Linked DNA regions of Homo sapiens. The protein of the gene in region 3 interacts with the protein of the main gene of each other region in a biochemical or structural test. Each region holds a gene or a part of one and is shown on either strand. Other genes may lie near its edges. The genes, in order: F11R, JAM2, PARD3 and SMAD1.

Region 1 (7,025 bases), on a different chromosome or scaffold from region 3:
GCAATGACAGCCAGGCTGTCCGGCTCATTCCTGTTCATTCACATGCAGACCACCCATGATCTGGTCTTCAAATTTCTTCTGAATTCCACCCCACTAAATACAGTAGCAGTTACTACTTTAAACTACTACTAAAGCACTTGTTCTCCAAATGACCTGAGAAATCCCCTTGCCTCAGCTCTGGGACAGTAGTTCCTACAGCTGTAGGGAGGTCTGTTAATGCACCTGGCTGAACAGGAGGTACAAGAGTAAGTACCTTCTCTCACTTGGTGGAACAGGCCAAGGAGATCCCCCAAGTACAGCATCAGCTTCACCCTGTGTACCTTCCTCCAGCAAAGGAAGGCCTGGCCACAAGAGGGCTCTGGAATGAAGGCCTGAAATTCAGAAGCTCTGCCTTGAGATAAGAACCAGGAAGGGGCAGGACCAGGCACTGGGAACCAGCCCCAGGTTGCTGGGAAGCAAGGCTTTGAGGCATTTTCCTGTTGTACAAAGGAGCCTAGGAACCCTCAAAGACCTTTTCCCCTACTTACTTCCCACAAAAAAGAGCCTTGACAAACCAAGGTTTTATTTCCAGCAACATTCAGCTGATACAAACACATAGAAATACAATCTCACCAAAGAGCTAAGAAGCCCTCCAACACACGCCCAATTTCAGCATACAGCTAAGACTACACAACACACACACAAGCTCAACAAAGAGCTAAGACCACTACACACATCTCCACAGCACCACAGGCACATCTCAAAAGGGTCTGTCCAGTAGTTCCAGCCAAGGGAAGGGTGATGGCCTAAGCCACCAGCTCCAGCTTTCTTTTCTTTCTTTTTTTTTTTGAGCTGGAGTTTTGCTCTTGTTGCCAGGCTCCTGAGCAGCTGGGATTACAGGCATGCACCACTATGCCTGGCTAACTTTGTATTTTTAGTAGGGTTTCTCCATGTTGGTCAGGCTGATCTTGAACTCCTGACCTCAGGTGATCCGCCTGCCTCAGCCTCTGGGATTATAGGCGTGAGCCACTGCGCCCAGCCTCCAGTTTTCTTTTCTTTAGAGCAGCGGTTTTAAATCCTTTTGGCTTCAAGTTCTCTGAAAATTTACTATGCTCTCCACAACAAGAGCTCCCATTTTCCACAGACACAGTCAATGTCAGTCAGCTTGTATTCAGGAGGACAGGGCAGAGGGATCCCAGTGGCACTTCCCATGGGAAGACAGAAGAGAGTGGGCCCCAGAGATGGAAGGACCCCAGTGTCATCACCAAACAACCATTTCAGCCGCTCTAGCCTCTAATTCCCGCTCTAGAACAGCTGGCCCTGGTCGTCAGTACACAAGGAAAGAGCCCAGAACCAAGCTCAAGATACCTATTCAAAGATCCCTGCCAGCCAGGTGGGCAGTTGAGTGCAGATTCCTGCGACCCCCGCCATTTTTGCTGTCTACTTAGAAGGGAAGTCAATGGCATACCCAGGATTCCTTCCTGATCCCTCAAAGAAATGGGGAATAAACACTTTAAACAAGTTCCAGGCCACTCAGCAGTGGTAGGAAAGGGAGGGAGGGCATGAAGGAGGATGGGGCACATAGCTGACATTATTAAAAACACATCCGAAGAAGTAGGGGGCCCTGTGGGGTGTAGAAGACAAATAAGGCATCCTGTGAAACTACAGACATCAGGGGCCAGAGTCCGGTAGCACCTGAGTAAGGCAAATGCAGATGATAGGCGGTGAGCCGACCAGGCTCACACCAGGAATGACGAGGTCTGTTTGAATTCTCCCTGCAGAAATAAAACATCCAGTCAACTCTCAATAGTCTTCTTTAGCTGATAATCCCCAAAACACATAAACATGGGCTAGAAATCTCCTCACTCCAGCCCCAGGTGGCCCACCCCTGCCCAGGGGAGGCATACTCACTTCACTTCGGGCACTAGGCTGGCTGTAAATCACCTTCTTACTCGAAGTCCTGTGAACAAGCCAGAAGACAGAGACACTCAGCCACCTAGGTGCTTATTAACCTCCCCTTGCCAACTTTAAAGGCCAGAAGCGAGAATGCTACAGAAGCACAGAGTGCGCAGCAGACAGGTATGGGTGGGGTAACAGGACAGACCCAGGGCCAAGGCCACAGAGAAAGGGCTGGATATCCAAATGCCTTCCCTCCAAACTGGTTGCTTCTGCCTTCAACCCATTCCCCTAGGCCCACTTCAGCTTCAAACCACATGCATCCATGCTCTCAAACTTGGAGAACCCCAGGACAGCACCTCACTCACCCTTTCTTTGTTCCTGAAAGAGAAGAAATGGGATCATGAGTGTCAGCAGGACAGAAGACAGCATGGCTTGGGAAGATGGAGGGGCAGGCCCCCAGCTCTTGGTGTTAGATGGGTGATCAGTGTTCCCCAGGGGACAACACCCACACACATGAGCACAGTATCAGGGTCAGTACTCAGATGACACCCATGCCAGGCCCTGGGATGGGGGCAGTACAAAGGAGAGCCTCTGGGGGCAGATACTTACTGTCAAAGTGGCCTCGGCTATAGGCAAACCAGATGCCAAAAACCAAGATTCCCAGGAGAATCAGGGTTACAAGGACGGCTGCCACGATGACCCCCACATTCCGCTCCACTGCGAGACACAAATAAGAAGTCAGGCACGGGGATACTCACTCACGGCACCTACAGTATCACCAATGGCAGGATGAAAAGCAGACCCCAATCCCCACCCCAGGTCTGGGCTCAAGCCCTAACTCTCACCAGCTTCCATGCGCACAGCATTTGAAGTCATGGGTGTCCCATACCCATTCCGTGCCTCACAGCTGTATTCTCCAGTATCAGAGGCTGACAGGGGATCAAAGACCTGAGGAAGGAAAACAAATTGGCTTCCTGCTGAAGAAGCAAAATAGACATTTTTTAATGTCTCTTGACCCCAGTTCCAAGTTCACCCTGTTGCCTGTTCTTCCTCCCACCTTTTGGGGTTCTATAACTGCATCCCCCACACATCTTTCACCACCACCCCATACATACCAGCTCTCCTGTTGTGGGATTCAGGACATAGGAAGAGTTGCTGAAGGCACGGGTGCTTTTGGGATTCGTAGGCATCACTATCCCATCTTTGAACCAGGTGTATTCAGAAGGTGGGGAACCATCTTGTTCTGAGCATGTCAGCACTGCCCGGTTCCCAATGGTGGCAGAGGAGGGGATGTTAACTGTAGGCTTGGATGGAGGCACTGTGGAAGAGAAAGACAGAAGGTGCTGAGTACAGGGTGGGGGCTGCTTGAGTCTAAGTAACCAACTACAATGGTACCCCCAACTACTCAGCTCAAGCCTCCTACTCTCACCATGCCCCTGGCTGCCACCTAACCAGGGGCTCATCTCCCTCTCTGGCAGCTCCAGGACTCTGAATAGCCCACCTGTGGGTATTCTCACCATCAAAGAGCTCCAAAGTGCAGCAGAGCCTGCTATGAGAAGTAACTAACTCCAGGCCCACCCAGAAGACATGGGGCACGTACCAAGCACGATGAGCTTGACCTTGACCTCCCCATAGCTGTTGCCGCCTTCCTCAGAGACCATACAAGTGTATGTCCCAGTGTCTTCCCGTGTCACGGACTTGAAGGTGATACCAGTTGGCAAGAAGGTCACCCGGTCCTCATAGGAAGCTACCACAAGAGGAGGCAAGAGCAAGGACAGAGTGAACTGGAGAGCTAAGGGAGGCTGATGAAGGGGGCATCCAAGGTACGCAAGTGCTCTCCTCTTCCCCCAGAAAGGGGGGTAGGAAGGCCATGAGGACTTCAGCCCCAGGGTGTGCCCTGGGATAAGGGCACAAAGTCTGGATCGTAGAATCCAGGCATGATAATCCCTCCACAACCTAGGCAATCAGGAAGGAGGAGAAGCAACTCACCTGTGATCTTGTTATTATAGCAAACGAGTCTGGTGGTGTCTCCTTGGTCAAACTTCCACTCCACACGGGGAGAAGAAAAGCCCGAGTAGGCACAGGACAACTTCACAGCTGCAGACAGGGTCAAAATGAGCCGAAGGAAGAAGCAGCAGCAAATACACGAGATGGGGAACAGCCCCAAACTGCAGGCTGGGCTGGGTGCTCTCTAGATCCCCAGGCGGCCGGCAACTGCTCACCCTCACACCCTCCATGGCCCCTCCCAACTCACGATTATTCTCAGGAATTCTGACTTCAGGTTCAGAAGAGTGCACTGTAACACTGCCCAATGCCAGGGAGCCTAAGGAGAAAGAAAGAGGTGGGCCCTGTCAGGAGTGGACAGAGAAATGCCAGGAAGAAGGAGTCACAGACCCAGTGGACAGGGCTTCTCCATTCACAGACCCTAAGAGGAAGGGATTCCAGACTTATGCTCCCTCTGGCTCTCACACTTTGTCACCATGATCCTAAATGTCTTCTTTAAGTGCTTTTTGCTACAATTGCCAGCTAATACTTCTTTTATCCATGGGAATGCAGTTTCTTTTGCTTCTAATTTTTCTCTCTGTGACTCCCAATAATCTAATTAGATTTCTACTAGTCCAAGGGCAGCTTCCAGAATGACATTTCACTGTTCAGAGAAAGCTTCTCAACAAATGATTGCAGCCACTTGTCAGGACAATCCTGGAAGGAAGCCAGCAGGGCTGGAGGCAAGGGATGGAAGGGAAGGGCAGAGCCATGATGAGGATAATAATAATACTCGACATTTGTGGAGCATGTGGTGCTTTTAAAAGTGTTTTCGTGTACATTATGACACGTTGCATCATTTGATCCTGGACACAAGCATGACAGATCGGCAAGACGTATATTATTATCCCGAGTTTACATGAGGAACTGAGAGTACAAGAAGTAAATGTGCCTAAGATCACACAGCTGGGGCCAGGTGCGGTGGCTCAGGCCTGTAAACCCAGCACTTTGGGAGGCCGAGGTGGGGAGGTCATGAGGTCAGGAGTTCAAGACCAGCCTGGCCAATATGGTGAAACCCCATCTCTACTAATAATACAAAAATTAGCCAGGCATGGTGGCACACCTGTAGTCCCAGCTACTTGGGAGGCTGAGGCAGAAGAGTCGCTTGAACCCGGGAGGCGGAGATTGCAGTGAGCCGAGATCGCGCCACTGCCCTCCAGCCTGGGCGACAGAGCAAGACTCAATCTCAAAAAAAAAAAAAAAAAAAAAACACACAACTGGTTCTGAGGTGAAGTTTGCACTAGAAGTGGGTTCAGATCACCTCATTAGAATATTCTACTTGCCAAATGGAGAAAGAAAAGAAAAGATAGTGTGTGCTGGGTGGAGGGAGGGAGAAGCAACAAGGCTAATTAAATAATATGGGGGAGGTGCATCAGGGTTCATAGGAGGGACCCACAAAGGTCAAATTAAGAACCAGTGACCAGGGATTCTGGGATCACATGATGCAGCTACAAACCTGCACTTACACAATTATTCTCATCCATGTTTTCAAAGTCAAATTCATGAAATATCCTTTTATTTGTAGCTTCAAGTCAGGACCCTGTCTTAGATAAATGTTTGTAGAAGTCAAGCACATCTGTTAAATTCAAGTACATTTTTCTTTTACTTAATTATGCACATAACTGAATATGGTCTCTTGACCTCTGAGACTCCCCTTCCTCTCTGAAATATGAAATAGATGTGCTCTAAAGTCCTTTAGGTTCTTTTTTTTAAATTTTGGCATTAATGTTTAGATAATATTTGTATACCTGTATTTCAATCTGATATAATAACACTATGAATTAGTCCAGATAAGTATTCTCTCTCCCATTTTATAGATAAGAGACTAAAGATATAGGTTACTCCTATATCCTTTTTCTCTTATTATACTCTCTATTTATTTGTTTTTTTTTTTTTTGAGACGGAGTTTCACTCCTGTTGCCCAGGCTGGAGTGCAATGGCGCTATCTCAGCTCACTGCAGCCTCTGCCTCCCAGGTTCAAGTGATTCTCTTCAGCCTTCCAAACAGCTGGGATTACAGGCGCTTACCACCATGCCGGCTAATTTTTGTATTTTTTTTTTTTTTTTTGAGACAGAGTTTCGCTCTTGTTGCCCAGGCTGGAGTGCAATGGCGCAATCTCGGCTCACCGCAACCTCCACCTTCCGGGTTCAAGGGATTCTCCTGCCTCAGCCTCCCAAGTAGCTGGGATTACAGGCATGTGCCACCATGCCCGGCTAATTTTGTATTTTTAGTAGAGACAGGGTTTCTCCATGTTAATCAGGCTGGTCTCGAACTCCCGACTTCAGGTGATCCGCCCGCCTCAGCCTCCCAAAGTGCTGGGATTACAGGCGTGATTAAGCCACTGCACCTGGCCTAATTTTTGCATTTTTAGTAGAGATGGGGTTTCACCACGTTGGCCAGGCTGGTCTCAAACTCCTGACCTAAAGTGATCTGCCCGCTGCAGCCGCCCAAAGTGCTGGAATTATAGGCGTGAGCCACGGCGACCGGCCTAATTTTCTTTTTTTTCTTTTGTTTTTTTGTTGAGACAGAGTCTCACTCTGTCGCCCTGGCTAGAGTGCAGTGGTGTGATCTCGGCTCACTGCAACCTCTGCCTCCCACATTCAAGAGATTCTCCTGCCCCAGCCTCCTGAGTAGCTGGGATTACAGGCGCCCGCCACTACGCCTAGCTAGTTCTAACTAGTTTTTTGTATTATTATTATTATTTTTTTAAGATGGAGTTTTGTTCTAGTTGCCCAGACTGGAGTGCAGTGGCGCAATCTAGACTCACCACAACCTCCGCCTCCCAGGTTCAGGAGATTCTCCTGCCTCGGCCTCCCTAGTAGCTAGGATTACAGGCAGGCGCCACCATGCCCGGCTAATTTTGTATTTTTAGTAGAGATGGGGTTTCTCCATGTTGGTCAGGCTGGTCTCGAACTCCTGATCTCAGGTGATCCACCCGCCCTGGCCTCCCAAAATGCTGGGATTACAAGCGTGAGCCACCGCGCCCGGCAATTTTTTGTATTTTTAGTAGACAGGGTTTCACCATGTTGTCCAGGCTGGAATTTCTTTTTTTTAAAGAGCTGGGTTCTTGCTACATTGCCCAGGCTGGTCTAGAACTCCTGGTC
Region 2 (7,225 bases), on a different chromosome or scaffold from region 3:
CTGCCTTACCATCTTTAACAAGCGTCATGAATAGTTTTTTTCTTGGAATGTTCCTGAAACCACCATTGCAAAATTATAACTGAGACAGTGAAAGAGACCTGACCTAACCAACTCCATCTTCTAACCTCCAAGCTGATCTTGTTTATTCCTGGGCGTAGGCTGAACTAACTTTGGGAGGAACTTAGTTCATTGTTTATAGTTTGACACAAAGATGGTGACAACGTTTTCCCAAAACAAACCCCCTTCTTGCCTGGGGACTAGACTGCCTTTGTAGGACTAACAAATTAGCCACGAGATTAGAAATTATGGTTTAAGAGTCATTCAGGCGGAGGCTGTAAGATCCTGACCCTCCATAAACTGCTCCTAAAATCAGTGTTTGAGATATTTCGCAGACCCTGCACTTGATGGATCAGCTGGTGCCACCCCGACGGAGAAACTGGCTCATCTGATCTTGTGGCCCCCACCCGGAACTGACTCAGCACAGAGGACAGTTTCAACTTCCTATGATTTCATCTCCAACCCAACCAATCAGCACTCTCGACCCACTGGTCTTTCCCTCACCTACCAAGAATTATCCTTAAACACTCTGATCCCTGAATGCAGAGAGACTGATATGAGTAATGATAAAACTCCATCTTCCACACAGCCAGCTCTGCGTGAATGACTCTTTCACCATTACAATTGCCCTGTCTTGATAAATCAGCTCTATCTGGGCATCGGGCAAGGTGAACCCATTGGGTGGTTATATTCCTAACACAAAGAAATGATAAATGCTTGAGGACGTGGATATTCCAATTACCCTGCTTGCTACACTGTATGCTTGTATCAAATCATCACCTGTACCCCATAAATATATAAAACTATTATGTACCCATAATAATTAAAAAAATTTTTAAATATTTTTAATATATCTTATGCATTAGTTGCTTTACTAAGTATAAAACTCAAGTCTGCAAATTTTTTCTACATGTTTTTTGGAGGCTTGCTTTCTCTATTATCCATGTGGGCAATACCCTCATAGACACTAAATACAAGAGACAATTCTCAACCCTCTTTTTAGCCTTGGACTGTACAAACACCTCCACCTTTAGCTCCTGATTCTCTCCCAGTTCCTTTTGTACTTTTTGACTGCTCTTTCTTGTGTTCTTTCTCTGGGTTCTTTCTCTTCCTACCTCTTACTGCAGTTATTTCCTTAGATTTATCCATAAACATTCACTTCTTTGTCTGATTGATCTCATTCACTGCTCCTGCCTTCTAGAAAGTTCCTCAAACAATAATCCATAGATTCGTTGCATCAGAATTAATCAAGGTACTTGTTAATAATACAGCTTCCTGGGGCTGCTGAGATTAAAACTTCTGAAACTCAGAATTTTAACATAATTTTAAGGAAAGAATCATAATGAAGGAGCTCCAAAGGATTCTGGGGAGAAGATAGTCCAGTGATCACTGTTCTAGAAGATGCTGCTAATATTTATATTTATTTCTTTAGTCAATCCTGAGGGTTTCCTGTTCTCTAGAGCACTCATTCTAACAGTCTACTGGTCACCCCAGCTATATTTCTCTCTCTCAACTCATCCCAAACCTGCAGGAATTATGTATGCCCTCTATGTTTCTTATTCCTTTAATGACACTATTTATAACCTCCACATACAGCCACCTATGCTAGAAATCTGATACCTACATGTTCTCTCCTTTCTCACCCCTACATCTAGCTGATAACATAATCCTGTTGACCATGTTTGTGAAATATCATCTGAATCCACCCGGTTTTTCATTTATCACACGGTGACCATTTACTTCACAACTTGGTCTCTTTCTCAGGATATTGTAATAGTTTAGACTTGACTAACACCCTGATTCTCTTTTCTGTAATCCATCCTGCACATTTCAATATGAGTCATCATTCTAGAGCAGCACTCTCTTGTAGAACTTCCTGCAATGATGGAAATACATTTTCCAATATGGTAGCCCCTACCCTCATGTGACTATTGAGAAATTCATATGTGATCAGTGTCAGTGGAGAACTGCATTTTACATATAATTGAATTCAAATTTATATAGCCAGCCAGGCATGGTGGCTCACACCTGTAATTCCAGCACTTTGGGAGGCCAAGGCGTGTGGATCATCTGAGGTCAGAAGTTCGAGACCAGCCTGGCAAACATGGCGAAACCCCATCTCTACAAAAAATACAAAAATTAGCCTGCATGGTGGCACATGCCTGTAGTCCCATCTACTGGACTGAGGAGGCTGAGGCAGGAGAATCACTTGAACCTGGGAGGCGGAGGTTGCAGTGAGCTGAGATTGCACCACTGTACTCCAGCCTGTGTGACAAAGTGAGACTCTGTCTCAAATTAAAAACAAAACAAAAAAAATGTATATAGCCACTTAGATCTATAGGCTACCATATTGGACACCACAGTTCTAAAATATGAGTCTTTTCTTATCTCATTGCTTTCAAAAAGCTCATTAGCTGTAGGATGAGGTCTAGACAGTAGCGTGAATGCTCTTCGTACTCTAACCTCCCCTTCAGTTTCTACCACCACCACCACCTACCTCACTATCCCGATCCCACATACACTTTAGTACTGTAGAACCTTGCTTTTTCTAAATAAACCATAATTTTTCAATCTCCTAGCTCTGGATCCTGCTGTTTCCTCTATGTAGAATGCCTCTCCTTTATGTCCTTCCCTTCAGAATTTGACCCATTTTTCAAGGTTTAATAAAGAAAGCCCTGGCCCCACTCCCAACAAAAGGAACAGCCCCTTATCATGGACCTTGGACAAGCCATTTAGTGTCTCTCCGCCCAGTTTTCTCATCTGCAAAGTGGGAATGATAACATTTCCTCTTTTATGGAGTTGTTGGGGGATTAGATATTGCGTTATTCAGACTCCATCACTGAGAAAGCATGCAATAAAAATAGCTGTTATTATTTTCTGTCCTCCTGTAACATTTACCATGTGGTATCAGGCATCTTTCCTGATAAGACTCTGTCTCCCCTCAAGACTGTGAGCTTGTTAGCAAGAAAGCCTCTATCTTGTTCATGGTTGTCCTTCAGCATCCAGCACATTGTTGCCATTTGTCAAATGCCTTGGCTGGGTGGCAAATAAATAACTTAGTCAGTTACTCACATAGGATTGCATAGAATTTTTTTAAGTATGACATTTTTGTGTATATTTTTAGGGAGGAGTAAAAGACATATAGCTGTAGCAAGAATTAGAAAAAAGAAGATGCCAACAACTTTTCTTTTTAAGCATCAAATCCTTCTCATTACTGCCCAGAAAAACTGGCATAAGCTGTTGTTAAATCTGTGCCCCTTCTCCTCGGTTGACTGGAGTACGAGTTTTAACATTTTGCCATTTTGACTTTCCTTTCTGGGTCCCCTGGGTCCTCTCCTCCCACCCCCTCCCTGGGTACTAAGTTTTCATCACTGTCACCACGGCAACAGCAAGGATGCCTCATTCCTCACAGTTCTGCACAGCTAAACTCTGGTCGCCTTTGTCCACTGAGCTAGCTGAATTCTTTTTAAATACACCACTAAATCAACTATCTGCTGTACAGAACTTCATCCATTATTCAACCTTTAAAAAAAAACAAAAACAAAAACAAACAAAAAAACAAAAGAAAAAAACTGATGTATACTAATTTCTTCTCCTGGGAATGGCCTTTTTCCAGACCTGCCAATACTCTTGAATACACCATACATTTTTGGTCCCTAGGAACAAATATAAAAATTGCCAGTGTACGTGCGTCCAATGTAAGTGTGGTGCAATTTTAAAGCACGCAACAGAGCATTCATAATGGGTTTCCCTTTTAAAAGCACAGTAGACCAAAAATAAACCTGACAAAGGGCAGCTGTAGAGTTTTAACACGTGGAAAACTCCACAAGCAGCAGTTATGTAACTTGAAAGAAACATGATAAATATTTCACACCATTAGATGAACTTCCAACTCTGACACTGAAAAAAAAGCAAAGAACAAGAACGCGAGACAAATGCACCTCAAATCTCCAAGGAGCAAAAAGCTTAAACTGAGAAGGGACCAAGGCTGTACTAAAATCTGAGACCTGACTTCCAGCACGAGTCTTGATTGCTTTTTTTTTTCTCGAGTTCGAGGCGGAGCCCGCGAACCCCATCTCCTCAGAGCGCCACCCCCTCAGCTTCGCCCGTTGGGCAGAATTTTCCAAATATCTCCACCCCTAGGCTGAAAAGCCAGAAAGAAGTTTTGAGCCAACGAGGGGAAGAAAGGAGTTGGGGCAAAACAGGAGGCGTTTCCCTACCCGCATACATCCCCGTCCCCGAGACACCCAATCCCCCCACCCCCAGCCTGCCCGCGCCTCCCGCCCCCAGCTCCTCGCCCTGGGGACAGCTGGCAGCCCCGCGCGGACCAGACACAAAGCCGATCAATCCCGGAGGCGTGGGGGCGGAGGGACGACCCGCCGGGGCTTTCCCGGGCGCTGCTCTCCTCCTGCTGCCCCCTCGCTAGGACCCGGCGGACGCCTCGTCTGGTTTTCACGCCCTCTAGCCCCTACCCCCACACCCCCAAAACAGAACAGACCCCCATCCCTGGGCTGGAGGACCCGCCTCTTGGCAGCCAGCTGAGAAGGCGCCCCGGGGAGGGGGAAACTGACATCCCATCTAGAGCCGTCCCTCCTCTTCCTCCCCTCCCGACTCTCTGCTCCTTTCCCGCCCCAGAAGTTCAAGGGCCCCCGGCCTCCTGCGCTCCTGCCGCCGGGACCCTCGACCTCCTCAGAGCAGCCGGCTGCCGCCCCGGGAAGATGGCGAGGAGGAGCCGCCACCGCCTCCTCCTGCTGCTGCTGCGCTACCTGGTGGTCGCCCTGGGCTGTAAGTTGCTCGGGTTCCTCTACCCTTCCTGCCTGGACCAGCCTGCCCCCACCCTCCAGCCCCCCACGGGGCGCTGGCTGACAGTGTCTGGGCGGCTCTGGGCCGAGGTCGCCGCGGGGCGTCTGACCTTGCGCCCAGGCGAGCGGGAAACCCAGGGTGCCCGCGAGCGGACGCTGGGAGCAAGGGAGCGCGAGGTCGTGGGTTTCTTGTGAATTGCGTCTGATTTTGTCAGTTCTAGATACAGAAAATTAAGGGTTCCCACTAGCAGGTTCTCATCTGTTTGCAAAGTTGGGGTAAGTTTTCAGACAGAGGGACGTGATTCGAATGCAAAACTCACTACCCACTGGTAAGATGCTAAGACCCCAAGAAAGATGGCATCACTGGGAGGCGGGCGCCGGCCACACTTTGAGTCCCCGGGGAGGGGGCAGCGTCCGCGTGGTCTGGGCTCTGTAGCGTCCCAGCTGAGCCGGCGATATGCAGCGCACTTGTGGGGCGGAGGTGGAGGGAATTCGTGGCTGCTGAGCCAGAATTACTTTTATCCTCTCCACCTGCACATCTACATTCACTTAGAGAAGTCTGGTCTGGGGACTCTAGCCAGCTGCTCTGTCCTCAGGGGACATCCAACGGGACGATTGTTAGAAAGATTCAGAAGCCACATGATCCAGTAGCTGGGGAGACGTCCCAAAGCCAATTTCACCGGATGATTTTAAACAGGATTTTCACGGATTCTGGACTCATGAGATTTGAAATCCTGGGAACGTTGCCGTTATTTTGTTTTCTTCGCGTTAACTTTTTAGGAAAATGGAGGAAATTACAATAGACTAAGCAATGCAGTTCTACTTTTGCTTTTTCTTTTTTCTCTCACCTTTTTTGTTTTGCTTTTTTCCCTTCCTTCCTTCCTCCCTTCCTTTCTCTTTCTTCTTTCTTTCTCTCTCTCTTTCTTTCTGTCTCTCTTTCTTTCTTTTGTAAAATGAGTTATTGTTGCTATTCACGTTCTGGTAAAGTAACACTTATAATACTTAACCTGCGGGACGAGTGTCTAATACCACAATACAATGATATTTTCTCACGCCCTCGCTGCCCAAGTGATCATCGCACAGCTCAAGTGATGTGAGCCACGTCCCTTTGTGGAGGAGGAAGGTGCACATTGTCTCAGGCAAGGGACATGTACTGACCAATATTATATAAAGTCAAACCAGAAAGCCAAAGTTTCACAATGAAACCCTTGTGCAATTCTGAAATATCAATTGGTATCATATGGAACACACAGAAGAAAAAAAATGCACTCATGCTAAAAGGCAACAGAGAGGTAGGCTGGAGAAATCGTTAACAGAACAACTGAGAAAGTTATGTATTCTGCTGAAATTCTAAATTTCAAATAGAAAAGAGTGTGCCTTTTAGTGTAGAATTGTCACTAATTAAAAACAGAAAATCGTTCTGCTGTGCTATTCCTATTGAATCACCAACATAGAAACAATACACCCCAAGTCTGAAATTGTAGTGGAGAAACAACCAAGAGGCGAACAAAAGCATAAATGAATGGGGCTGAGTGACCTCTTCAAGCTTTAGGTAAATATAACACATTGTCTCTGCTAAACTTGATTCCTATAGGGGATGTATTTGGAAGTGTTGTGGGGACTTTTCTATATTGTTCCTGGGATACTAAAAGATCTGGCATTGCAAGAGTGTTTTCTTTGTATGTGGGTGTTTTTTTTTTTATGTTTAAAACAATTTTAGAACAGTTTGGATTTAAATAAAAATTCCAACGCTAGTATAGAGAGTTCTCATATACTCCACACCCAGTTTCCCACATTGTTAATATCTTACATTAGTATGGTACACTTTATTCAAATTTCCTTCATTCTTACCTAATGCCTTTTCTATTCCAGGATGCCATCCAGGCTACCATATTACATTTAGTTGTCCTGATTCCTTAGGTTCTTCTTGGTTGTAACAGTTTCTTAGGCTTCCCTTGCTTTCTCTTACTATAATGGGTTTGAGGAGTTCTGGTCAAGTATCTGGTAGAATGACTGCGAATTGCTGTTTCTCTGATATTTTTCTCATAACTAGACTGGGGTTATAGGTTTTTTGGAGGAAGATCAGAAAGTGGTAAGGGGCCTAGGTAAAGTGACATTTTCATCACATTATCTCCAGGGAACATACCGTACACATGACTTATTGCTGTTGATGTGAACCTAGGTCACCTGTAATCATACTCCTAATGTAGTGCATACCAGTTTTCTCCACAGATTACCTACCCTTTTTTCTTCATTTCCATACTAGATTTTTTTGGAAGGAAGTCACTACATGCAACCCACACTTCTTCAGGAAGGAGAGTTATGCTCCATCTCCTTGAAGGCGGAGTATCTTCATAAATTATTTG
Region 3 (7,025 bases):
TTGCAGTGAGCCGAGACTCTGCCACTGCACTGCAGCCTGGGCAACAAAGTGAGACTCCGTCTCAAATACAAGAAGGGAAAAACCAGACACTAGAAAAATATACATCTGAGTTCCAAAACCTTAAATCTTACAGTGTCTGAATAGTTAAAAACACCAAGATTGGGAGAATGTTGACTTGACTATCATCTCTAAAATGACTTAAATTTATACCACCATAAAAGATCACCCCAGAAATACACACGTATGTGCATATATATATATATATATATATATACACCGTACAGTTCGTATCATGCAATATCATACATCTGTAATTCACAAAGGGAATTGTCTTAGTCACTTCTGAGCATGATGTGATTTACATTAAAAGATACTTACCTTGAGACAATAAGAAATTCTGGGGCCGGGCGCGGTGGCTCACGCCTGTAATCCCAGCACTTTGGGAGGCTGAGACAGGCGGATCACGAGGTCAGGAGATCGAGACCATCCTGGCTAACACGGTGAAACCCCACCTCTACTAAAAATACAAAAAAATTAGCCAGGCGTGGTGGTGGGCACCTGTAGTCCCAGCTACTCGGGAGGCTGAGGCAGGAGAATGGCGTGAACCTAGGAGGTGGAGCTTGCAGTGAGCCGAAATCACGTCACTGCACTCCAGCCTGGGCGACAGAGCGAGACTCCGTCTCAAAAAGACAAAAAAAAAGGAAGAAGGAAGGAAATTCTGAAGGACACCCTAGACAAATTTTTTTTTTCTGTTAGAGACAGAGTCTCGCTGTGTCACCCAAGCTGGAGTGCAGTGACACCATCATAGTTCACTGCAATCTCAAACTCCTGAGCTCAAGCAATCCTCCCACGTCAGCCTCCTGAGCAGCTGGGACTAAAGATGCACACAACCATGTCTGGCTAATTTTTTTTTTTTTTTTTTGAGATGAATCTCCCCATCGCCCAGGCTGGAGTGCAGTGTCGCTATCTTGGCTCACTGCAACCTCTGCCTCCCAGGATTCAAGTGATTCTCTTGCCTCAGCCTCCCAAGTAGCTGTGATTATAGGTGTGCACCACCATGCCCAGCTATTTTTTGTACTTTAAGTAGAGATGGGGTTTCACTACTTTGGCCAGGCTCGAACTCCTGACCTCGTGATCCACCCACCTCGGCCTCCCAAAGTACTGGGATTACAGGCGTGAGCCACCACACCCGGCCTATGCCTGGCTAATTTTTTTAAAAAGAGACGGGGTCTCACTATGTTGCCCAGGCTGGGTCTTGAACTCCTGGCCTCAAGCAATCCTCCCACCTCAGCTTCCCAAAGCTCTGGGATTACAGGCGTGAGCCTTCTCACCCAGCCAACCCTAAGCAAAATTTACCCTAACTCTGAATAGCATCCATTTGACCTGGAGAGCAAGCCCCGTCATTTCAAAGTTGGGGGGGTCGGGGTGAGGCAAAATATTCTCACAGCATGGAGGGAAGCAGTAAGAGGTCCTGGACCCTGTATAACCATCTGAAAAGCCACTGCACATCACTTATGGTCCCATGAGCACCAAAACAAACCATGCAGAGCAGGAGTCCCTGCACAGCTCAGGGAACTGGCAGTGGGAGTCCAGCCCAGCACCTCTGAATATGAGAACATGGGGAAACAGAGGCTCACAGAGCTTGTAAGATTTGCCAAAGCTCAAAATTTCTGGGAGCCAAAGCCAAATGCTGGAAAGGCTGGTCCATTACGTGCATCCTTGGGGCATTCTCAACCTCCACTGCACAAAGGTAGCTGGCGAGCTGGGTAGAAGGAGTCTCTGGCTAAAGAACAATTGGTGAAGCCCTTAGAGGGGGTAGGGGGTAGCACACAGAGACCAGGGGACCTGGAGGCTCAGCAGCCAGGAGCTTACCAGACACTAAACAGGACACATTGGACAGGCCTGAGAAAGCAGGGATTCCACACTATATGGAAAACTCCTAAAGACAGCCAGTTTTCATTTGAAGTGTTTTGAGCATCTCTGATACACATATATATGTCATTTTATGAAATGCTCAGAACTACAAAATACCTAAAAATGGAGCGTTGTTCATAGTGGCTTATGCAGTCTATTTTTCTAACATCTTTATTGACATATAATCACATAACCATAAACTCCATCCATTGAAAGTATACACTTGAATAGAACTGTGCAACCATCACCATGATCTTAGAATATTTTCATCATCCCAAAAGGAAACCTCATACCCATTCACAGTCTCCATGACTCCAAACTCCCAGTCCTAGCGGAACACCACTCTACTGTCTCTATAGAGCTACCCACTCTGGTCATGTTATAGGAACAGAATTATACAATATGTGGGCTTGCTGCTATGAACACTGATGTACAGGTTTTGTGTACACATTTTCATTTCTCTTGTGTGCTTGTGTGTGTGTGTATATATATAAAGAGTATATATAAAATATATACAGAATAGAGTACAGAGACTATATACAAAATATACTCTGTTTAGGTGAAAAAAATAAATAATTGATATTTAAAGTCACTTGGATGTGGAGCTTGAAATTTTACTTGCAAGGACCAATATGAGTTGATGGAGAAAAAAGGAATACACAAAAGTAATATTTAAATGGCAAAAACCACGTAAAGATAGCAGGCCAGATGCAAGAAGGCACAGACCTATACACGAAAGTTATTTTAACTTTATTTACTAAAATGTTTACTTATTTACTAAATAAGTTAAAACAAAGTTATTTTTACTTATTTGCTAAAATTTAGGCCAGGCATGGTGGCTCGTGCCTGTAATCCCAGCACTCTGGAGGACCAAGGCAGGTGGATTGCTTGAGCTCAGGTGTTTGAGATCAGCCTAGCCAACATGGCGAGATGCCGTCTCTACAAAAACTACAAAAATTAGCCAGGTGTGGCGGCACACAACTGTAGTCCCAGCTACTTGGGGGACTGAGGCAGGAGGATCGCTTGAGCCTGGGAGGTTGAGGCTGCAGTGAGCAGAGATCACGCCACTTCACTCCAGCCTGGGTGACAAAGACCCTGTCTCAAAAAAAACAAAAGAAAGAAAGAAAAAACTTGTAAATAATGACTAAAAGACAAAAAAAAATCAGTCATCTTTCTACTTTATTCACTGAACTCGGCATTTATTTTGATAAAGATTTGCTTTTGTACAGAAAAGGTACCCAAAACAGGTAAAACTGTATACATTTACTGATGTCCAGCTCTACTGCCATTGACCTTGGTCCCAGCCAGGAATGTTGAGCGAGTGGCCAAGCAGGATGAAAGCATGCTGTGTGGGCTTAGCATGCCATCTCCCCCGATGGAAAATTACCTATAGAAAGCACCTTCTGGCCCAATCTTACATGTTTATTTCCATCCTTGATAAAAAATACCGAGGGCTCTAATCATCTATGGGGAGCTCAACATCACCAACTTGCACCCAACTCTGTGGGGAGGTAGAACCTCCCAGGACAGACGGAGGATCCGTCTGTGGGTTTGCATCCAAGTGGGACTTTAAATATTCCCTCCACAACCAATTTATCCATGTCTACCACAAGCCAAGAAGCGCTTCACATCCGCCAGATTCTCTCTGAGAATCTCAGATCCTAAACATTCCTACTTAGTCCTGGCACTCAGCCAAGCATCTCAACTGACGGAATCAGAGGCGCCAGACCAAGCATAGGTGTGTTCCAGGGCCAGATTCTCACACAGCCCTGGCCACCTGCCTTGAACCTCGCCCAAGGCGAATCCCAGGAGGGTCCTCTGCTTGAGCTGAAAAACAAACTGAACTCCCTCAAGACAGCTGATACGAAAGAGTAACTTCCAAGTACTCCAAACCTCATTAAATCTTAGTTTCCATTACAAGCTGTTTGTGCCAGTAGGTCAAACACACCAAACCTTAAAGTCCTTTAAATTCACGAGTGCTGATGATAGTCCTCTCAGCAGAAGTGTATTTTTTGTGTGAGAGCAGTGTAACATGTTGATTCTCAGCTTTCTATTTACTCAACATTCTGACTGCAATGTGACAGACACGGGCTATTCACCAAGACTGAAGCTCAGCCACCGCTTCAAGCATTTCACCCGGAGGGAGGAAGGGCGCACGGATACACTTGAAAACCACACAGCACAGCCCAAGCATCTGAGTCGGTACAGGAGCTACACCCAGGACGTCCCCAGGAGAGGCAGCAGGCAGGGAGAAAGATCCTCTAGCAGCTTGGGATGGAGAGCCAGCCTCCTGGAGATGGCTGTCTGGGCTAAGACTCACGAATGAGTGCAAGGAAGGAGCAAATGTCCCAGGCAGAAGAAACAGAAAATGCCAGAACAGAGGCAGCAAAGTGTATGTGAGTCCCAGGGGGTGGAGCAGCTGCAGAGGGAGTGGCTGGAAGGCAAGAGGGGTCCCTACAGGGACAGGCTGTGCTCAGAAGGCAGGACTTGGAGAACGCGGGACAAAGGCGCTTCAGCACCAGAGGACAATGTGACTTGAATTCTGGAAAGATCAGCCTTTCAAAAATGTTTAGTTTCTTTTTCCTTTTTAGAGGGAAGGCAGAAAATGTTAAAAAAATAAATAAATAAATAAAGCTGCTTTCATTTCACTATTTTTATGCTTGCCTCTATTTTCTTTCAATCTCTGCAACAGTACAACTATTTTCTTAAAAGTTTCAATACGCTTGTAAATGAATAACATGCAGTCATACATTTATTCACAGAAAAATTCCATACCAACCACAAGATTTTTCATAAAAACCATGACTGTCATTGTTACTAATCAACAGTCTCCCGCCACCAAAAAAGCACATTTTCAAAAGTTTCTGTCCATGAGCTCAACTTTTTAAAAAATACAGGTCAAGCATCCCTAATTGAAAAATCCAAAATCCAAAATACTCCAAAATCTGAAACTTACTGAGCACCCACATGACGCCACACCTGGAAAATTCCACATGTAAGTACTTACCACAGACTTATTTTCAAGCACAAAAATACTGCATAAAATTACCTTCAGGCTATGTGTATAAGGTACGTAGGAAACATAAATTCTAACAATACATTAGACTTGGGTTCCATCTTCAACCTATCTCATTATATATACAAAAATATCCCAAAGTCCAGAAAAATCCAAAATACTTGTGTGGTCCCAAGTATTTTGGATAAAGGATGCTCAACCTGTAATAACAACAGGTTGCTATTAAATCACTCTAAAGTGATGTGCTTGGGGACAGAAGCCAGAGGCCCCAATAATCAACCTGTAATCAAGCCAATACCCGCAGCTTTTACTTCCCCAGCCCATACACACATGCAACACACAATTTTGTTCTCCTGATTGTGGTGCTGCACGTCATTCAATCTCACATTCTTACCTATCCTTCAATGAAATTACATGCTGCGTTTTTAAGTAAACAGGAAAAATCCAAGCAGCAATAGTGGGACACCTGGGAAAGTTCCCTGGGTGTAAAACTGCTTGGTGGATAAAACATATTGGTGATTCCATTCATCTTTACGGAGCAGCTAGTATGGGCCGGGCCCAGGACTTTAGAGTTTCCCTCTCATCATCCTGTTTAATACTTACATTAACCCTGCCAGGGAATATTCCACTTGAGATAATGGGGCTCCGTAGGGTTGGTGTACCCAAGGTTAAATGGCCTGTAAACCTAAGTCACCAAACCCAATACAAAGCTCCCCTATACCCAAGGTTAAATGGCTTGTAAACCTAAGTCACCAAACCCAATCCAAAGCTCCCCTACAGGCTGAGAGGAGAGCTATGAGGGAGGTGGGAACAGTGAGCAAAGGGGCTCCAGCACCTCCTTGCCCTCACTTTTGCCCTTCACTCTCTCCTTCCCCTTTTGGTCACTCAGCAACCTTTATTTAGAATGAAATGCTAAGGAATTATCCATCCAAACCTCATCTAAGGTTGCTCAGGTCATCCTCCTAGAACTACTTGTTACCCTGACTCTTAGCTAAACACCACAGTCCTTCCTACTGCACGAAGTCTCAGGGTCTTGCCCTGGCATTCTGTCCTCCTCAGTTTGATCCTGACCCCCTGGGCTGAATGCCTGAATCGCCTTTGTCCATACTGCCTTCCTGGAATGCCCTCCCTTTCACTTATCAGAATCGTAGCAGACATTCTGCAGATTCACACACCTAGACCCCAACTGCAGACCTCAGACCCAGAGCCCATCTGCCCCTGCAGGCAGGTGCCTCACCCAGTTAGCAAGCACTGCCCTATATCAAGGTCAGCCTTCCCACCAACCAAGCCCAGTTCAAATCCTAGTGACTAAATGAGACTCCCACACACACCCCATAATGATAGCACCCACCTCCAAAATCCAGAAGCGATTACTGACTGTATCACAGTGGTGCCAATTAATGCTACCACCTCCTGTTATTTATACTGTTATATATTCTTCCTGTCTCCTAGATTATACTTTTTTTTGAAAATTGCACGAATTCAGTCTTATATTTTTTTCATAGAGCATGACTTTTTATACACAGCAGCCCTTCAACCAACCCCACACAGCGCTGCAGCTCAGCACCATGTCCACCTGGAATCACGCGTGTCAGGTCGCAAGCGCAGAAGAACAGATGCAGACACGGTCCATCCTCCCATCCTGCGCCCTCATGAGAACGGTCCATGTAACGCGGTTCCCAATGTCTAGCACCGCACTGTCCTCAGCGAGGCTCCTAATGCAGATGGGTGGATGAGGATGAACAGCTATTCCCAACCATCAGTGATCACAACCACAAAACCATCTTTCAGGAGAGGAAAAAAGAAATGTCACACATGACTAAGCATAAGCCTTCAAATATCTACTCACTGAGGACATGTCTAGTATTAAATCATGACACTTCACTATCCAGAAAAATTGATTTGTGTAATCTGAAGAGAAAACAGCTCACATGCAATGCCAGAAAATTAGCCCCACCACACCAGAAAATGTTTACTGCAGAGAAAGCCTTGGTGATTTGAGAGTTGGGACCTTTCTCTTTTCCTTTTTATTTTTTATTTTTGGCTTGGTTGGTTATTATCCAAAGCCATAAACATGATCTGCCCACACTTTTCC
Region 4 (7,025 bases), on a different chromosome or scaffold from region 3:
TCTTCTGGCAAGCTGTTAGAGAGCAATACCCATCACCTAGACCAAGGCTAGGATTAAGATGATTCTAGATTGGTTGTAAAGACTGATCCGTTTCATTTTTGCCCTTAGACTGGGGCATATTCCTCCAGGAGCTTCCATTGAAAGCCTAGACTATTTACCAGGGTTTCTCCTCAGCAGGCCCTCAACTCCATTTGTTGCTGTGTTGTTATTTTGGGGTTCCTCAGCGCTATGAGGCTACTAGAAGCTCTGCTTAGTTTTTAGCCTCTTAGTTACCTCTTTCTGCTCGGCTCCTAGACCTTTTGCTGCTCATAGCATAGCTATTGGCAAATCCCTGGAAAGAGTGGTGACGAATATTCAGCTCACTTCATTGCATTTCCCCTCTCTCCAGGATCTTGGCCCCCTCAAGTCCTGAGTGCCTTGGTTCCTCTTTGATGCCTTTAAAAAGCTGGGCTTTTGTTTGTTTGTTTTCTGGCTTGTTTGTTTGGAAGGAGGTTGGTCTGATACGTGCTACTCCAGTTTAGCCAGGGTTTGTACAAAGTTAACCTCCTTAACCTTTTTCACATTTTATGTTTTCATGTGCTAAAGAGTAAACAGTTTAAATGAGGCAACTTGGCTAAAGAATTTGGTACAGTATGTGTCCATGTGCTTTATTCCTTTTATGTCAATAAATAGCAACATTTTTAAAGCAGGAGATGTATTTCCTATCCTATTTGTCCTGTAGCCCATAGACACAGGCTTGTTCACTGAAGAAATACCCTAAAATATTACTACATTTATATAAGAGGAATTTTCTTTTAGCCTAAGAAATATTTGTAGAACAAACCAAAAAAACAGAGATATTAGACTATTTTTTTCTCCCTGTTGCTTTCAGTTTTTGTTGATTGAGGTGTTTTGAAATATATTTTTAGAGGTTATAAATGAATCTAAATCTAAAATATTACAATATCTTTTGAGAACTTGGGCTTTTTAACTTTGTTGCTTTTATCCCAGAGCTTTTGCTAACAGTGGCTTACTTTTTAAACTGCTTCTCAGTTTACTCATCTGTAAAGTGGCAGCAATTGTATTACCTAACTCAAAGGATTGTGAAAAGCATTAAATGCTATATATTAGTCTGCTTTGGTTGCCATAATAAAATATCATAGACTGGGTGGCTTAAATAACAGAAATAGATTTTCTCTTTGTTCTGGAGTCTGGAAAGTCCAAGATCAAGGTTCTGGACAATACAGGCTCTGGTGAGGGCTCTCTTCCTGGCTTGCAGATGATCACCTTCTTGCAGTACCCTCAGTGTGTGTGCATAGAGGCTGGAGGAGGGAGATAGCAATCTTAAGACCACCAGTCCTATCAGGTTAGGGCCCCACCCTGATGACCTTACTTAACTTTAATTACTTTCTTAGAGGCTCCATCTCCAAATATAGTCATACTGAGAGTTAGGGCTTCCGCATATGAATTTTAGGGGTCACAATTCAGTCCACAGCATACTGTATTACATAAAAGCACTTAAAATAGTACCTAGCACATGGTGATTACTTAATAAATGTGGTTGTATGGTAAAGATGATTCTAACCATTCTTTTTTTGTTTTGTAGGTGCTGACTGGGTTACTTTTTTAAACACTAGGAATGGTAATTTCTACTCTTCTGGACTTCAAACTAAGAAGTTAAAGAGACTTCTCTGTAAATAAACAAATCTCTTCTGCTGTCCTTTTGCATTTGGAGACAGCTTTATTTCACCATATCCAAGGAGTATAACTAGTGCTGTCATTATGAATGTGACAAGTTTATTTTCCTTTACAAGTCCAGCTGTGAAGAGACTTCTTGGGTGGAAACAGGGCGATGAAGAAGAAAAATGGGCAGAGAAAGCTGTTGATGCTTTGGTGAAAAAACTGAAGAAAAAGAAAGGTGCCATGGAGGAACTGGAAAAGGCCTTGAGCTGCCCAGGGCAACCGAGTAACTGTGTCACCATTCCCCGCTCTCTGGATGGCAGGCTGCAAGTCTCCCACCGGAAGGGACTGCCTCATGTCATTTACTGCCGTGTGTGGCGCTGGCCCGATCTTCAGAGCCACCATGAACTAAAACCACTGGAATGCTGTGAGTTTCCTTTTGGTTCCAAGCAGAAGGAGGTCTGCATCAATCCCTACCACTATAAGAGAGTAGAAAGCCCTGGTAAGTGAGTTATTTTATGTTGATGTGCTTTGTGTGCCCAGTACCAGATTTGTGTTGTTTAGAACATGAAAATAATCCCTTTGCTTGTTTTTAGTTGTAATTTAAAAATATTTGGGGAAACTGTGTGTGTGTGTGTGTGTGTGTGTGTGTGTGTGTGTGTGTGTCTGTGTGAATGCAAGAGAGAAAGCCCCTGAGTGTTTCATACATTTTAACAGCTTAGTCATCTCTAGTTAACATTATGTCTTGGGAGCAGGCTATGACAATTGTCATTGCAGTACTAATACCTCTAATTTTTAATAAATTGTTTTCTTTCTAAATTTATTTTTTATGTCTCACATGGTTCTCTGCATTTCTCTAGATAAAATTAGCTATGAATTGTATTCTAAGGGAAGAAAATTAGGAAAGAAATGCATTATTGCTGTCTATATGCTTAAGGGAAGTACATCATGAGGGTAGTTGCCAGTGACTTAAACCATTCTGAACTTAAGAACAGCACTTTTTATCATCTCTGGCGGAATTTTGCTGTGGCATATTTCCTATGGTGAATATGAAGGAATTATATCCTTCTATGGAATCATTTGATGCTATTACTTTATAAAATATACCCAGTTTTTACATGTATAGTCTTTTGGGAGGGTATGGTAAAGGATATATTTTAAAATTTATACGGTTTTGCCCTCAAGTTAGAATCTACATTCTAGAGAGTTGGATCATTGGAAAGTGATTAGATATTCAAGCACTTAAATGTCTCATTGTCGATTGGGACCAATTTTGTTGATGGATTGGCTGTTAATAGTTCCTGGGTTACTAAGGCTGTATATTAGAATCACATGGCTCTCCTCCCAGAAATCCTGATCCTGGGATAGCCTGGTAATCTTTGTTTCTAACAAGTACTTCAGGTGTTACTGATGTAGCTATTGGATTGGTGTTTAGGAATTACTAAACTAGATCATGTAATAACATGGTTTTCAAATAAAAGGCATTCTGTATTTTTGTGGAATATTTAAGACATATTTTAAAAAAAGATTTTAAAGACCAGTAGTATAACAAACATCTCTGTATCCCCTACTCATTTTAAGAAATAAAAGATTACGTGTAAACTGGAACCCCTGTTTTTGCTCCTCTGATTCTGCTCCCTTTGGTAACCACTGTTCTGAATCTGACGCTTATCATTCTCATGCATGTTTTTATACTGTTATTACATATGTATGAGTCCATGACAATATGTAATATTTTATATATTTAAAAATGTTACATAATATTGGAGTTTCTTTGTACAACTTATGTTCATCCAACATTACGTTTTTGTGATTTCTAGATTATATACTTTAGGATTACCTTGTTAAGTCCTATGAAAAACACTTTGGGAATTTATTGGAATTTCGTTGATTTCATTTGGGGAAGATTGGCCTACTGTGCTCTTGAGCATAATATTATTTAGTGCACTTTTAAGTTTCTCCATACAGCTCCTGCACTTACTAGATTTATTTCTAGATAACTGGTTTTTATTGTATCCTTTTAAAAGTTACATTTTGTTACAGTTGCTCTTGGTTAAGAGAGCATTGCCTTTTTTCTAACAACTGTGCTGAATTCTCCTTACCAGTTTGGATATAGACGTTCTTTACTGCTTGTTATATCAGCTGTGATGCAGTGTTCTTTTTTCTAAACTCAGCACAGAGGTACATGTCCCTCTTCTAGCCAGAAATGGAAATGGAGCTAAGAGTTTTGGAGAGTAAAATGTAGTAGATAAGTAATATGTACCAGCAATATTATTTAGGCACATGATTTTTTTGATCCTCGTAGTAACCTTAAAATGTATTAATACATAGGTAAGATTTTAATTCTACTCCATATGCGATGAAACTGAGGCCCCTACAAGTTAAGTGCCTTGTGTTAGAACTAGAAAATAGAGGCATTTGACATGAAAGGCAAAATTCACTATTTAAAAGACACTATGAATATGTCTTCTCCATCCATACTCCCCCTCACCCTGCGCTAACCTTCCAGCATTTCATCTTGCAATGCAGCAACTGCCTCCTGACTGGTCACCCCCTTCAGTCCATTGTCTACAGAAAGGGATCTTTTAAGATGCAGACATGATCCTCTTGTTGTCCTACTTTTCCCTACTCTTGAGAAGTCCTCTAGAGAGGTCTGCACATTCTGGTCCTTTCCTCCCTTTCCAACTTCCTTTGTACTCTTGCATGCTTTGTGTGCTTGAGTTCTCTGGAAACATTCCATGCACGTTTCCTCTATCTGTACCTGTTTCTCCTCCCTCTTTGTCTAGCCCACTCTTATTTATCGTTTGTGTCTAGCACATGGTCATTACTTAATAAACTAAGTAATTGTGTGATGGAGGTCAGTTTCATTGGGAAACCTTTCTTGATACCTCCTACTTCACACATATCTCCCTACTCTGCTTGGGGAGGTTAGGTCTCATTTCCCATAGCAACCTGAATTTCTTTAGAATGTTCTTCACACTTATAATGATTGTTCTGTTGGTCTTCTCTGCAAGATAGTAAATAAAGCTCCATGAGGGCAGGGACTATGTGTATAATTAACATCTCTATTTTTAGCAACAAGCATAATTTGATAAATTTTTGCTGTTAAATGGTGATGCTGATTTTTAATTTAATATCGTCATTTGGCCATTTTTTTAGTGCTGAATTTTCAGTTTATCTATACCTTTTGACCATCTTCTTCCCTTCTTTGGTCATTTTATGGCTATTACACCTCTGATACAAGGTGAAAAGTTAAAACCAATACTGAGATGAATTTGTTACTCTTAATAACATATGTGCTAATAAAATAATGGGGAAGAGGTGGAAAACTGGCTTACATAGGCATTTTGAGACTCCACAAATGCCATTTCAGCCTCTCCTTTACCCAGGAATCTTGTGAGTCATGGATAGAATAGAACAGTTCTGGAAAACATGGAGGCTGAGGCTAAGATCTATTTAATTTGAACATATCAAGATTTTATGTATATTTTTCACATTATGAAGTGACTGATGTGGGAATTGGAACAAAGGACTTTTTCCAGAGACCACTATGAAGCAGTCCCTGTACCTTCTGAAGAGAAACTCTACTAAATCAAAGTGCAAGAGGCAGCCAGATGTGGTGGTACATGCCTGTAGTCTCAGCTACTCAGGAGGCTGAGGTGGGAGGATCACTTGAGCCCCAGAGTTGAAGGCTGCAGCACACTATGATCATGCCTGTAAATAGCCATTACGTTCTAGCCTGGGCAGTGTAGTGAGACTCTGTCTCAGAAAAATAAAGTTAAAAAAATGCAGCATAGTAAAACCCCATCTCTACTAAAAATACAAAAATAAGCCTGGCGAGGTGGGGGGCGCCTGTAATCCCAGCTACTCGGGAGGCTGAGGCAGAAAAATCACTTGAACCTGAGAGGCGCAGGTTGTAGTGAGCCAAGATCATGCCATTGCACTCCAGCCTGGGGGACAAGAGTGAAACTCCATCTCAAAAAAAAAAAATAAAAATGTGCAAGGTGACTTAGCCCCTCACACTGCCAGAATTGAAGCCCTCTATAAAGCCGTACAGAGTACACCTGGGTATTGTTTTTGTGAAATCAGAAAAAGGGGGTCTGGAATTCTAAGCTGCACATATACACAGCTCAACACTGAATTATTTTGAACTTTGTCACTATTTTACTTCTGATGAAGTATCTCAAAGAACAGTTTAGCAGTTTAACATATTTAAGTCTCCCAAACTTGGTGACTTCTGCTGAGGTCTCAATGACTCTTGAAAAAAACTCAAAAATTGAGAATATTTAGGTTTAGAGTAGTGGTTTTCAAAGTGTCGTCCACAGAGTAGTAGCATCAGTACCACCTTGGAACTTGTTAGAAAAGCTAATTATTATTTTTAAATTGACAAATAATTGTATATATTTGTGGAATACAGTGTTATGTTTTGGTACATGTATACATTGTGGAATGATCAAATGAGGCTAATTAACATATCTGTCACCTCCCATGTGTATTTGCTTATTTCTTTCTTTTTCTTTTTTTCTCTTTTTTTTACTGCCTATTCTCTGAACCATTTTTTTGTTTGTTTGGTTGGCTTTTTTTTTTTTTTTTTTTTTTTTTGAGGTAGAGTCTCGCTCTGTTGACCAGGCTGGAGTGCAGTGGCATGATCTCGGCTCACTGCAACCTCTGCCTCCCAGGATCAAGAGATTCTCCTGCCTCAGCCTCCCGAGTAGCTAGGATTACAGACGTGCATCACCACGCCCAGCTAATTTTTGTATTTTTAGTAAAGATGGGGTTTTACCATGTTGGCCACGCTGGTCTCGAAGTCCTGACCTCAGTTGATCCACCTGCCTTGGCCTCCCAAAGTGCTGGGATTATAGGCGTGAGCCACTGAGCCCAGCTGAACCTTTTTTTTTTTCACCATACTAATTTCTTTTTGGTGAGTACATTTAAAATCCACCCCTAGCCTAAGCAACATAGCAAGACCCCGTCTTAATTTTTTTTTTTTTTAATTAGCGAGGCATGGTGGCATGTGCCTATAGTCCTACCTATTCAGAAGCTAAATCAGGAGGATCACTTGAGCCTAGGAGGTCAAACCTGTAGTGAGCTATCATCATGTCGCTGCACTCCAGCCTGGGTAAGAGAGAGACTCTGTATCAAAAAAAAAAAAAAACCCACTTTTTTAGCAATTTTGAAATATACAATGTATTATTAACTATAGTCACCATGCTGTGCAATAGATCACCAAAACTTACTACTTCTAGCTTAAGGTTTGTACCCTTTGACCAGCATTTCCTCTGTCCATGTTCACCCCTCCCTGCAGCCCCTGATAACCACCATTCTAATTCTACACTCTACTTTTATGAGTCTATTTTAGATTCCAC

The links.
Region 1: the proteins of PARD3 (region 3) and F11R form a complex in vitro, tested with the Homo sapiens proteins (one study listed by BioGRID).
Region 2: the proteins of PARD3 (region 3) and JAM2 form a complex in vitro, tested with the Homo sapiens proteins (2 studies listed by BioGRID and IntAct, with this or other methods).
Region 4: the proteins of PARD3 (region 3) and SMAD1 form a complex in vitro, tested with the Homo sapiens proteins (one study listed by BioGRID).

Annotation. Positions count from the first base shown.
Region 1 is NC_000001.11:160,997,153-161,004,177, forward strand, and holds part of F11R (junctional adhesion molecule A isoform 1 precursor), read right to left. Parts: intron 4,202-7,025; coding exon 4,133-4,201; intron 3,976-4,132; coding exon 3,868-3,975; intron 3,626-3,867; coding exon 3,479-3,625; intron 3,197-3,478; coding exon 2,994-3,196; intron 2,827-2,993; coding exon 2,724-2,826; intron 2,596-2,723; coding exon 2,488-2,595; intron 2,341-2,487; coding exon of another isoform or gene 2,257-2,340; coding exon 2,244-2,256; intron 1,940-2,243; coding exon 1,891-1,939; intron 1,755-1,890; coding exon 1,719-1,754; 3' UTR 1-1,718. UniProt on the Homo sapiens protein: Seems to play a role in epithelial tight junction formation. Appears early in primordial forms of cell junctions and recruits PARD3.
Region 2 is NC_000021.9:25,635,047-25,642,271, forward strand, and holds the start of JAM2 (junctional adhesion molecule B isoform 1 precursor), read left to right. Parts: upstream 1-4,211; 5' UTR 4,212-4,775; coding exon 4,776-4,842; intron 4,843-7,225. UniProt on the Homo sapiens protein: Junctional adhesion protein that mediates heterotypic cell-cell interactions with its cognate receptor JAM3 to regulate different cellular processes. Plays a role in homing and mobilization of hematopoietic stem and progenitor cells within the bone marrow.
Region 3 is NC_000010.11:34,805,294-34,812,318, forward strand, and holds part of PARD3 (partitioning defective 3 homolog), read right to left. Parts: intron 1-7,025. UniProt on the Homo sapiens protein: Adapter protein involved in asymmetrical cell division and cell polarization processes. Seems to play a central role in the formation of epithelial tight junctions. Targets the phosphatase PTEN to cell junctions.
Region 4 is NC_000004.12:145,512,853-145,519,877, forward strand, and holds part of SMAD1 (mothers against decapentaplegic homolog 1), read left to right. Parts: exon of another isoform or gene 1-630; intron 631-1,585; 5' UTR 1,586-1,761; coding exon 1,762-2,161; intron 2,162-4,161; exon of another isoform or gene 4,162-4,342; intron 4,343-7,025. UniProt on the Homo sapiens protein: Transcriptional modulator that plays a role in various cellular processes, including embryonic development, cell differentiation, and tissue homeostasis.